3 separate regions of the Homo sapiens genome follow, and regions 1 and 2 are each reported to be linked to region 3. The links are microRNA targets in miRTarBase. Many come from high-throughput screens and were not tested one by one. Region 3 holds a microRNA gene; each other region holds the end of a gene's coding sequence.
The links. The annotated mature microRNA hsa-miR-6893-5p reads CAGGCAGGUGUAGGGUGGAGC and lies in region 3 at 1,558-1,578, shown strand. An mRNA with a match to its seed (bases 2 to 7 or 8) in the 3' UTR can be bound and repressed. Matches are read on the target gene's strand: a 7mer-m8 pairs with bases 2 to 8, a 7mer-A1 pairs with bases 2 to 7 and ends in A, and an 8mer does both.

Region 1 (4,000 bases), not on the chromosome of region 3:
AGAAGATGACGTTTCTAGGTGGGGACCAGGATGCCGTTCCACCCTCACTGCCTGTTGGGCCCTTCTCCCTGGGTTTGTAGTCTCCCTAACACCTGTCCCTATCCCTACAGGATGTGTGCCCCTGTGATGGTGGAGCTGGAGGGGGAGACAGATCCTCTGCTCATTGCCATGAAGGAACTCAAGTAAGTCACTCAAATCATGGTTCACTTCTCCAAATCTCTGGGAGGCATCTGTTGGGCTCTCTGTTGCACCCTTTGCTCCCACTTGCCTGGCTGGAGAAGTTGATGCTTATTCCTACAGATCCTTAGGAACAGCTCACCAGGAAGTAGGAGGAAGAGAGAAGAGGAGGCAGGGAAAGTGGGAGGGCACTGATGAGACATGGACGTCTTCTGGCTGTTGGAATTTCCCTGTTCCTGCTGCAGGAGGCCTTACCAATATTCTGTCATTCTTCCCCCTCTTGTCTGATATAAAAACTTTCTTTTTCTTGTAATTGCTTTCTTACAAAGTACACTCATCAGCCCCAAGAGGCTGCTCCTAAGACTTCTCTTTGCTTGTGTTTTGCACACAATCTGTTCCTTCTGCGGCAGAGCTGGGGTCACCAGCCCTCATGTACTTGTGACTTCTCCCCTGCCACAGGGCCCGAAAGATCCCCATCATCATTCGCCGTTACCTGCCAGATGGGAGCTATGAAGACTGGGGGGTGGACGAGCTCATCATCACCGACTGAGCTGGAGTCATCTTCCTGCCCTTGCCCCATGCCCAATTTTCATTCTCACTTTATATGTGTAAATAATAAAATATTCAACTTTCCAACCCCCTTCCCCTCTGCTTATCTGCAATGTCACCACCTGTTGCTTCCCCGTTACCGCCATGCTGCGTGGAGCATGCACCTATTCCAGTGGCCCTGTGACTGTCAGCTCCTTAAGAAGCACCAGGGGCCCTTAGCCCCTTTGGATCCCCCACATCCTTCCCTCCATCTCCCTGTTCCCCAGAGCAAAGGCTGCTGCAGGGGAGACACCTCAGCTGCCTTCCAAGCAGACAGACAAGTCTTTGTGCCCAGGGAGCTGGTTGCCACGGAAACCCCCAATTTCCTTTCCAGTGGGGACTGGCTGCAGGGGCTTCTCCCTTCTCAGGAGTATCACAGAGCAGGTCTCATCAAGCCACCCATTGTTTCCTAAGGACCTGCTTCGAGCCTCTTATCGTGGGCTCGGATCCCCTTTCAGGAGCAGTGCCCCAGCAGGAAGCGTGGGGGTGTGCTGATCTCCCACCCTCCCCAGGCAGAGCCCTGCTGGGCAAGTCAGCAGCTGGAGCAAGGACCGAGCACCTGCCTACCCCTGCCCCCATGGCTCTGTCCCCACTCCTCCTCAGGACTCTGCCCACACGCTGTCCTCTGTGGCCCACCTCTTTGGTGTGCCACACCCATGCCTTCTTCCTAGCCTCTATAAGATATCCTTTCCCTCCTATTTGGGGCTGGTGATCCCCTGAGGCCTTGGGGACATGGTGCTGGGGTGGTGGTGCTCCTGGGTTCCAGGTGTTACATTAAGTCAGAGCTGGAGTTCCCCCTTCCTCTGCCTGAGGTTCTAATGGGTCCTCTTCCTTTCTCCACCCTGCTTACCCAACCTGAGGTAAGACCAGTCACACTGGCTCCTCCCTCCTAGAGGGGGTCAGGGGGAGGGTGTATATTGACATGAACAGGGATAGAGGGTAAACTGGCTCCCTGAATATGCCAGCCTTAACCTCCATTCCACTGCCAGCTCCCCTTCAAAGAGGAGGAGCTGGGCTTCCCTAACCTCTGCAGGAGGCAGGGCCTCCAGGCCTAGGTGCAGCCTGGCCCTGGGATGGGATGTGGGGAGTGAATGGTGAGGATCTGCATTGGTGGGAGGGGTGTCCGCTGCCCTGGAGAAGGGTTAATTCAGGGAGCAGTGGACTTCACACTCCCATCCACCCTCCTCCAAGCCTGTGGAATCCTTTAATCAAGTTGGGTGCTGAAATTTCAGCTCTGAAATGCCGCCTTTGTGCTGGCATCCAGGCAGCCGCCCCAGAGTGCGGGGGTCACTTTCTCGGCCCCATTTCTCTAAATGGTCTCTTTGTTCCCTGCTGGGCTGCTCAGTATCAGATGTGATTAAAGGGAGATGGGGTTTGGGCTGGGGAGGAGGGGAATTGGGGGTTAACCCTTAGGGGATAGAGTGCAAGGGAAATGGGACAGAAGGGGTGTTTTTCCTCCTGTCTTCCTCTTCCCATTCTCCTCTTTTGGGGAGTCCCCTGCTATTCAGCTGTCTGGGCCTGGCTTTTGACTTCTCTTGAATAAAATGTCCCGGTCACCACTATTGGTTCTGTTTTCTTAGGGTTTGGGCATAGTCTCTTGAGTCATTTCCAGAAACACCTGACCCTTTTTTAACAAGTGGAGCTCCTGCCTTCCTGAGGCCTGTGCACACTTGGAACCTTTGGTCTAAGGGATGCACACAACCCAGGTCTTCTGACTTCCTTGGGGTCATTTCCCCTCCTTCCACATCCTCAGTGATTTCCCACTCACTCTCATGAGATGTGGGGTCTTGGAGGTGATAGTGTCATCTTCCGGATGTGCCCCCTGCTCCCCACTGTGCCAGCTCCATATCCCTCATCCCACGGCGAGCAGGAGTAGTGAACAGACCACAAATGGACAAAAGTCCTGCCTTTCAATGAAGGGGAAAGGGTGGGTTGTAAAGATTATAAACACATAAGGTTAGTACTGATTGATCCATGACAAAATTCTAGAATAGGTCCCTCCATGTTTAAAAGTGCTTATATAATAAAGAGGAGATCGGGCACTAGCATAGGGTGTCTAAGAACCAATATTGCCAAATAAGTTTTTTTTTCGATGGTTACTGGTCCAGTAGGTTGAGAGAATGCCAGAGATCAGTGAATCTTGATTTTGACAAGGCATCAGTAGTCTCCATGCCACTGTGACAGAGAAGTGTGTGCTTCATGGTGATGTAATTAGACAGTTTTAGAACTGATTAGACAGCCTCAAGAGTGGAGATAATAGCTGGGCGTGGTGGCTCACACCTGTAATCCCAGCACTTTGGGAGGCTGAGGTTGGCAGATCACGAGGTCAGGAGATCAAGACCATCCTGGCTAACACAGTGAAACCCCGTCTGTACTAAAAAATACAAAAAATTAGCCAGGTGTGGTGGCGGGCGCCTGTAATCCCAGCTACTCGGGAGGCTGAGGCGGGAGAATGGCGTGAACCCGGGAGGCGGAGCTTGCAGTGAGCCGAGATCCCGCTACTGCACTCCAGCCTGGGCGACAGAGAGAGACTCCGTCTCAAAAAAAAAAAAAGAGTGGAGATAATAGGCCAGGTGCGGTGGCTTACGCCTGTAATCCCAGCACTTTAGGAGGCCGAGGCAAGCGGATCATGAGGTCAGGAGATTGAGACCATCCTAGACAACATGGTGAAACCCTGTCTCTACTTAAAAAAAAAAAAAAAAAATTAGCTGGGCGTGGTGGTGCACACCTGTAGTCCCAGCTACTCGGGAGGCTGAGGCAGGGGAAGCACTTGAACCCAGGAGACAGAAGTTGCAGGGAGCCAAGATTGCAACATTGCACTCCAGCCTGGCAACAGAGCAAGACTCCATCTAAAAAAAAAAAAAAAAAAAAAAAAGAGTGGAGATAATAGGACTGACAGTGGAGAGAGGCGTTTAATGCTGTACACAGGTGTCCCTCTTCATTTCGACCTTTATTAGTGACTTGAATGAGGCTATTCAAGTTTGCAGATACATAAAGCTCTAAAGGAGAGCTAAGTTCTAAAAAGTTTAATACAGGTGGGGAAATGGGTCAAACCCAACAAGGTGAGATCTGTTAAAGATCAGTGTAAAGTCCTGCTTTTATCTAAAACAAAACAAAAACAGCATACATACAATTTGGATATGACTTTGCAATGGATATTGTCTAAAAGATCGGGGTTTCGGTTACCATCCAGCTTCACGGGAACCAGCAGTTTTGGGGAGGTTGCTTGAAGAGC
Region 2 (4,000 bases), not on the chromosome of region 3:
CGTCAACAGTGTGTGCGATGGTACCTGTGGCAAGAGCGAGGGCAGTCCCAGTGAGAACTCTCAAGACCTCTTCCCCCTTGCCTTTAACCTTTTCTGCAGTGATCTAAGAAGCCAGATTCATCTGCACAAATACGTGGTGGTCTACTTTAGAGAGATTGATACAAAAGACGATTACAATGCTCTCAGTGTCTGCCCCAAGTACCACCTCATGAAGGATGCCACTGCTTTCTGTGCAGAACTTCTCCATGTCAAGCAGCAGGTGTCAGCAGGAAAAAGATCACAAGCCTGCCACGATGGCTGCTGCTCCTTGTAGCCCACCCATGAGAAGCAAGAGACCTTAAAGGCTTCCTATCCCACCAATTACAGGGAAAAAACGTGTGATGATCCTGAAGCTTACTATGCAGCCTACAAACAGCCTTAGTAATTAAAACATTTTATACCAATAAAATTTTCAAATATTGCTAACTAATGTAGCATTAACTAACGATTGGAAACTACATTTACAACTTCAAAGCTGTTTTATACATAGAAATCAATTACAGTTTTAATTGAAAACTATAACCATTTTGATAATGCAACAATAAAGCATCTTCAGCCAAACATCTAGTCTTCCATAGACCATGCATTGCAGTGTACCCAGAACTGTTTAGCTAATATTCTATGTTTAATTAATGAATACTAACTCTAAGAACCCCTCACTGATTCACTCAATAGCATCTTAAGTGAAAAACCTTCTATTACATGCAAAAAATCATTGTTTTTAAGATAACAAAAGTAGGGAATAAACAAGCTGAACCCACTTTTACTGGACCAAATGATCTATTATATGTGTAACCACTTGTATGATTTGGTATTTGCATAAGACCTTCCCTCTACAAACTAGATTCATATCTTGATTCTTGTACAGGTGCCTTTTAACATGAACAACAAAATACCCACAAACTTGTCTACTTTTGCCTAAAGTTACCTATTAGAGGTCACTGTCAGAGTTCTCAGTTTCTTAGTTACTATTTAACTTTTCATGTTCAAAATGAAAATAATTCTTAAGTTGAAAGCCCTCTTGAAGTAACCTTTTTATAAATGAGTTATTATAATGGTTTACTTAAATAAAAAACAGGGGTGGGTGCAGTGGCTCATGCCTCCAATCCCAGCACTTTGGCAAGGCCAAGGCAAAAGGATCGCTCAAGACCAGGCTACGTCACAAAGCGAGACCTCCATCTCTACAAAAGATTTAAAAAATTAGCTGAGTGTGATGGTGTAAGCCTGTGGTCCCAGCTACTAGGGAGGCTGAGATGGGAGGATCACTTGAGCCCTGGAGGTCAAGGGTGCAGTAAACGGTGATTGTGCCACTGCACTCCATCCTGGGTGAGAGCAGACCCTGTCTAAAACAAACAAACGAAAAAACCCCCACAGAATGACAGAACATAAAAGATGCACATTTTGTCTTCCAACTTTTTACTCTTCTAAAAGCATCTTTTTTAAATTTTTTAAATTTTTTTTTTTTGAGACAGAGTTTCACTCTGTCACCCAGGCTGGAGTGCAGTGGCGTGACCTCGGCTCACTACAACCTCTGCCTTCCGGGTTCACGCCATTCTCCTGCCTCAGCCTCCTGAGTAGCTGGGACTACAGGCACCCACCACCACACCCAGCTAACTTTTTATATTTTTAGTAGAGACGGGGTTTCACCCTGTTAGCCAGGATGGTCTTGATCTCCTGACCTCATGATCCACCCACCTCAGCCTCTCAAAGTGCAGGGATTACAGGTGTGAGCCACGGCGCCTGGCCTAAAAGCATCTTTTTCTTTAATGCAGAGGTTATGTTGTATTATTAGCATAAATGTTTTTTTTCTGGGAATGCTTATTTCACACAGCACAATACTGAATCTTCTCTGGAATGTGGATCGATTTCAGATGGATGACTATTAAAATGTGTATATTTGCAGATTATCCTTAAAGGGCCACCTCATGCCTTCTAATTTATGTCTTACGGATAAAAAATCAAAATGAAGCATAAAGTAAAAACTGTGTCCAGCTTTACAAGTGGACGCTTAGTAATGGCTGAGGCAATATGTTTAATGTAGCAAATTTTACTTATTTGTCATGATCAGTTTTCACAGTGCTTGTAAGTGCTGGTAATAGAAGATGGACATGGTTTAGGTCAAAACTTGGACCAGAAACCAACTTCCTTTGAAACAGCTCTACCAGTTATAAGAGCAATATGCTGTTAGGTGAAGAACTGTTTAACAGAAATATATTATGTTTTTGCAAACAGGCAGCTGATCCAAAATTGTGTTGAAACACCTCAGAAACATAAATGACATCAATACTCTATAAATTAATGCTGTTAACAAATTTAAAAAATAAAACATACAATTTTCAAATTGAAGGCACACATCCCAGTTGGTACTGGCAAGTTTAAATTGTTTCTAATACTGGTGGACTCTTCATTTGTAACCTACTGAGCAGTTACAGAGGGTACTCCCATTGATACAAAATGCTCAGGTACCGGCATTTCTCCACATCCAGAGTTCTTTCTATATTCCCTTCTGATTTCCATCACTTATCTGTTCCCTGCTTTTGTCCTTCCCCAGTCTCACCCCCATCTCTAGCCATGGTAAGTGAGATGGCGGAAGCAGGTGCCTAGAAGCAAGCAGCAGGAAGCAGCATTTTCCCACTCCTCCCAGAGCTCTGGGCTCCCAGACTGTGTTCCTACCTCTGGACAATGCTTTCTCTTCCTCCTGGGCTCAGAGGGCTTCACCAGAGCCTGGACCACCAGTGGTAATAGCTGCATTATTTAGATTTTGCTTCAGGATGCTCAGAGGTTAAGGTTAACTGATCATACTGAACATCATGAACTCCAAAAGCTTTCACTTAATCCTTCAGGTAAAGGAAAATTGAGGCTTGATGACTAAGTTGGTAGTATTAATAACTACATCAGTCACCATATCTGTACAACACAAGGACTCTTAAATTATACCCAAATCATTTCTATTTGGCTTTAGGAAAAAAACAAGATTTCCTTTTCAGCATTTGTTCTGTTTTGGCCAAATAAAAATTGTTTTCTTTCTTCCTCTAAGCTCACCCTACGGCATGTCAGGTAACAAAAGCCAGTCTGCCCAGCCTTCCATCTTTACCTTTGGAAATCGAGACCTGAATGGGTCCCATTCTTTTTCTGTAATCCAACAGAAAATGAAAAAAAAAACAAAAACCACCAAAACTTTTTCCCCCTATTTGGGATTCTAAGAGGACACATGAGTCACATAAGTGCATTTAACTCAGACAACTTTAGATCCTAATGAAATACTAGACAAGAGAGAAAATGGCATGAGTGGACAGTTCTCCCTCGTCACATACTATCCCTCATGGTTGCATGAGGCTGCCTGCTGATGAGATTCAAGCCAACTTAAATGAAGGGCTTCACCACATGAGAACCTTCAATAGCAACGTTTACATCACTGGGGAGTTTATGAGACCCTGAGAGAGGGCAAGAGAGTTTACAACTGAAGAGAAAGTTCCTATTTATTCTCAAATGCCCTGACTAAACTGCTCAAAAGCAGTTTATATTTTCAAACCAATGTCATGTCCTCAACATAAAGTTCAAATTCATTTACTGTCCATGACACTTAAGCATCCAGATCAATAAATTACAATACACATATTCTGTAAGAGTCTTTTATACCAAGAAGCTTGTTTTTGGTCTTCGGCAGTGACATTTCCTCCCCATTCACCACACAAACGCAGCCCGCTCTCGTAACATGCGGACACCAAAGCGCTGCCACTCTCGCTGATAAATCCACAGTTCCTGTGTTGTATCCAAACAAGCCAACACTGCCCCTCCTTTCCATGCAATCAGCCGGGGGTCCATGTCCTACAGAAGGGATGAAGGCATTTCAGCCTAATCACATAAGACATATACTCAATCATTTACTTGAATATGGGGCCGAGAAAAATCCCTGCTGAGTCAATACCTAGTAAGCCAGGCTTTCACCCTGTATTAAAGA
Region 3 (4,148 bases):
TGCAGAGCTCACGGGGCTGGGGCCAGGCTGTGAGGTACACAGGGCCAGGCTCCTTCCTGTCCTTGGTCACAGGGCCACCCCCTTAACCCTCGGGACTACTGTGGCTGGACACCTCTGCACGAGGCCTGCAACTACGGGCATCTAGGTGAGCAAGGGACAGAAGGAGCCTGGCGCACCTTGGTGGACACGTGGGGCGAAGAGTCAGTCCTGGCGGGGCATCGGGAGCTGGGCTTACGTCTCCTGGTCTGCAGAAATTGTCCGCTTCCTGCTGGACCACGGGGCCGCAGTGGACGACCCAGGTGGCCAGGGCTGCGAAGGCATCACCCCCCTCCACGATGCCCTCAACTGTGGCCACTTCGAGGTGGCTGAGCTGCTGCTTGAACGGGGGGCGTCCGTCACCCTCCGCACTCGAAAGGTGAGCCTGGTGGGGCAGAGGGCAAGGGCGAGGTTATGGGGGCTGCTGTGCCCCTGCTCAACTGATGCCACACAGGGCCTCAGCCCGCTGGAGACGCTGCAGCAGTGGGTGAAGCTGTACCGCAGGGACCTGGACCTGGAGACGCGGCAGAAGGCCAGGGCCATGGAGATGCTGCTCCAGGCGGCTGCCTCGGGCCAAGGCAAGCAGGGCGTCCCTTGTCCCTGGGGTTGCTGTGCCTACGCTGAGAGTCCCCGGGCCCTGATTTCGGGAGATGCTCCATCACAGGTGGAGCGGGAGGTGCCGGGCCCCTGCCTCAACACGCATTCTCTCTCCCACAGATCCCCACAGCTCCCAGGCCTTCCACACCCCAAGCAGCCTTCTGTTTGACCCCGAGACCTCTCCTCCTTTGAGCCCCTGCCCAGAACCCCCCTCTAATAGCACTAGACTCCCAGAGGCCTCTCAGGCCCATGTCAGGGTCTCCCCAGGGCAGGCGGCACCAGCCATGGCCAGGCCTCGGAGGAGCAGGCATGGGCCAGCCAGCAGCAGCAGCAGCTCAGAAGGCGAGGACAGCGCAGGCCCCGCACGGCCGTCCCAGAAGAGGCCTCGGTGCTCGGCCACAGCACAACGGGTGGCAGCCTGGACGCCTGGCCCCGCCAGCAACAGGGAAGCAGCCACAGCCAGCACCAGCCGGGCAGCCTACCAGGCAGCCATCCGGGGTGTGGGCAGTGCTCAGAGCCGGCTGGGGCCTGGCCCACCGCGGGGCCACAGCAAAGCCCTTGCCCCCCAGGCAGCGCTCATCCCGGAGGAGGAGTGCCTGGCCGGGGACTGGCTGGAGCTGGACATGCCCCTGACCCGCAGCCGCCGGCCCCGCCCCCGGGGCACTGGAGACAACCGCAGGCCCAGTAGTACCTCTGGGTCGGACAGTGAGGAGAGCAGGCCCCGTGCCCGAGCCAAGCAGGTCCGCCTGACCTGCATGCAGAGTTGCAGTGCGCCAGTTAACGCAGGGCCCAGCAGCCTGGCTTCAGAACCTCCAGGGAGCCCCAGCACCCCCAGGGTCTCAGAGCCCAGTGGGGACAGCTCTGCGGCAGGCCAGCCCTTGGTGGGTATGCAGACCTGGAGCAGAGCCCTCTCCCCACTCCGGGCAGGCAGGTGTAGGGTGGAGCCCACTGTGGCTCCTGACTCAGCCCTGCTGCCTTCACCTGCCAGGGTCCGGCCCCGCCCCCTCCCATCCGGGTTCGAGTTCAAGTTCAGGATCATCTCTTCCTCATCCCTGTCCCACACAGGTGAGGCATCGCCTGCCCTACCCCGCAGCCCACCTGTGCAGCTCCATGCCAGGGTGCTCGTGTTTGCATGTCAGGGTGGGGCGTGTGACGAGGGCTCCCTGGTGTGTTCCAGGAGGATCCTGTGGCCCCCAGGAATAGCAGAGGGGCTGGTGGTGTGCTGGGCTGCAGGGAGAGGAGGGGCCGGCTACCTGGGAATGGGAGAAGCAGCTGAGGGGGCTTCTGGCCCTGGGCAGGGATGGCGGGTCCCTGGGGCATTACCCCGGCTGTGTGCAGGCAGCAGCAGCAGCGCCTCTGTCCCTGCAGCAGTGACACCCACTCTGTGGCCTGGCTGGCCGAGCAGGCGGCCCAGCGCTACTACCAGACCTGCGGGCTGCTGCCCAGGCTCACCCTACGGAAAGAGGGGGCCCTGCTGGCCCCACAGGACCTCATCCCTGATGTGCTGCAGAGCAATGACGAGGTGAGCCGCAGAGCGGAGGGGGAGCCAGGGCCTCAGGCACCGGGAGCCCCCGGGTGGCTCATGGCTGCAGAGCAATGATGAGGTGAGCCGGGGGAGCCCCCAGGTGGCTCATGACGGTGCCTTCCAGGTGTTGGCTGAGGTGACTTCGTGGGACCTGCCCCCGTTGACTGACCGCTACCGCAGGGCCTGCCAGAGCCTGGGGCAAGGTGAGGGCCAGGAGAGCTGCAGTTTCTGGGTGAGGTCGTACAAGGGGGTTGGGCACACAGGCTCCACCAGCCCGGTTCATTCCTGGGCCTCGGGTGTTTTGGGGTGCACCTCCCCCAGCCTGGTGGGTGCTGTGTCCTGCACTTGGATGTGTGGGTGGAAGGGAGAGGACAGCCCTCAGCCCCCATGATCTGCTGACAGGGAGATGGCAAAAAGCAGCCGAAAGCCTGGAAAGTCAAACCCAAGGAGGAGGGCCTGGCATGGGCTGGGAGCTGCTGGGGAAGCTTCCCAGAAAGCTTGTCCCGGGGGGTGTGGAATCTGGCAGTGACTGGTGGAGCTCAGGGTGCTGCAGACCCACCCCGGCCCCCAGGGCCTCACAGTGCTAGACCCACAGGCATGTGCGAGTGGGCTCTACAGCAAGTCTGGTGGGTGACCCCTGGGGCTGTTGAAAAGGGGCTGCCTGGTTTGCCCTCTGGGATTCAGAGGGCAGAAAGGGCCGGCCTTACCCTGGTGACATCACATCCCTCCCGCAGGGGAGCACCAACAGGTGCTGCAGGCCGTGGAGCTCCAGGGCTTGGGCCTCTCGTTCAGCGCCTGCTCCCTGGCCCTGGACCAGGCCCAGCTTACACCCCTGCTGCGGGCCCTCAAGCTGCACACAGCACTCCGGGAGCTGCGCCTGGCAGGGAACCGGCTGGGGGACAAGTGTGTGGCTGAGCTGGTGGCTGCCCTGGGCACCATGCCCAGCCTGGCCCTCCTTGACCTCTCCTCCAATCACCTGGGTCCCGAAGGCCTGCGCCAGCTTGCCATGGGGCTCCCAGGCCAAGCCACCTTGCAGGTATAGGCACAGAGAGCAGCAGGCCCTCAACAGCGGGGAGTTGGGGTTCCCATTCTGCAGGTCCCTGGGTGGTCTAGGGTAGTTGGGAGAGCCAGCCAGTGCCCGGCTGTAATAGGCTATGCCAGGCAAGGTGGGGAAGAGACTGCCAAGCCAAGCCCCAAGGGGGACCCTGTCCGTGGGACTGCTGGGGGCTCACTGCCAGCCTGTGTCTTCCACAGAGTTTGGAGGAGCTGGACTTAAGCATGAACCCCCTGGGGGACGGCTGTGGCCAGTCCCTGGCCTCCCTCCTGCACGCCTGCCCCTTACTCAGCACCCTGCGCCTGCAGGCGTGTGGCTTCGGCCCCAGCTTCTTTCTGAGCCACCAGACAGCACTGGGTAGTGCTTTCCAAGGTGAGCTGACCAGGCACTCCCTGTCCACTCCCTAGCCCTGGGGCATTGAGGGTTTCCAGGACTTTCAGAGGGGGCCCAGGCTGGGCACACAGGGGCAACACCTGTGGTCCCAGCTACTTGAGAGGCTGAGGCGGGAGTATCGCTTGAGCCAAGAGTTCCAGGAAAGCCTGGCCCACATAGTGAGACCCCATCCCTTAAGAAAAAAGCGTCTAGGCCGGGCGCAGTGGCTCACGCCTGTAATCCCAGCACTTTGGGAGGCCAAGGCGGGCAGATCACGAGGTCAGGATATCGAGACCATCCTGGCTAACACGGTGAAACGCCGTCTCTATTAAAAATACAATTAGCTGGGCGTGGTGGCCGGTGCCTGTAGTCCCAGCTACGCAGGAGGCTGAGGCAGGAGAATGGCATGAACCCGGGAAGCGGAGCTTGCAGTGAGCCGAGATCGCGCCGTTGCACTCCAGCCTGGGCGACAGAGCAAGACTCCGTGTCAAAAAAACGAAACAAACAACGTCTAGGGGCCTGGGATGCCAGACCTGGCTCTCCGGGAGGGCCTGGCACCTGGGA

Region 1: miRTarBase lists POLR2F as a target of hsa-miR-6893-5p. Seed matches in the 3' UTR shown: 8mer at 1,324-1,331.
Region 2: miRTarBase lists IL17RB as a target of hsa-miR-6893-5p. The part of its 3' UTR that is shown has no 7-base or 8-base seed match.

What each region holds. Positions count from the first base shown.
Region 1 is chr22:37,966,989-37,970,988 of GRCh38, forward strand. POLR2F (RNA polymerase II, I and III subunit F) reads left to right here. Exons shown (of 5, transcript NM_021974.5): 4 at 111-182; 5 at 637-2,324. The coding sequence ends at 727. It overlaps MIR6820 (microRNA 6820), which reads left to right and starts at 575; the gene lies at 575-636. RefSeq lists enhancers at 651-1,151, 1,534-1,828.
Region 2 is chr3:53,864,996-53,868,995 of GRCh38, forward strand. It overlaps IL17RB (interleukin 17 receptor B), which reads left to right. Exons shown (of 11, transcript NM_018725.4): 11 at 1-799. The coding sequence ends at 313. It overlaps ACTR8 (actin related protein 8), which reads right to left. Exons shown (of 13, transcript NM_022899.5): 13 at 2,071-3,867. The coding sequence ends at 3,724. Among named protein-coding and RNA genes, the nearest start is that of ACTR8, 15 kb to the right of the region's middle.
Region 3 is chr8:144,433,024-144,437,171 of GRCh38, reverse strand. It overlaps MIR6893 (microRNA 6893), which reads left to right and starts at 1,553; the gene lies at 1,553-1,621. TONSL (tonsoku like, DNA repair protein) reads left to right here. Exons shown (of 26, transcript NM_013432.5): 14 at 73-145; 15 at 252-415; 16 at 491-614; 17 at 754-1,514; 18 at 1,622-1,698; 19 at 2,002-2,155; 20 at 2,283-2,361; 21 at 2,893-3,194; 22 at 3,413-3,584. TONSL-AS1 (TONSL antisense RNA 1) reads right to left here and starts at 2,004. Exons shown (of 6, transcript NR_109770.1): 1 at 1,732-2,004; 2 at 177-421.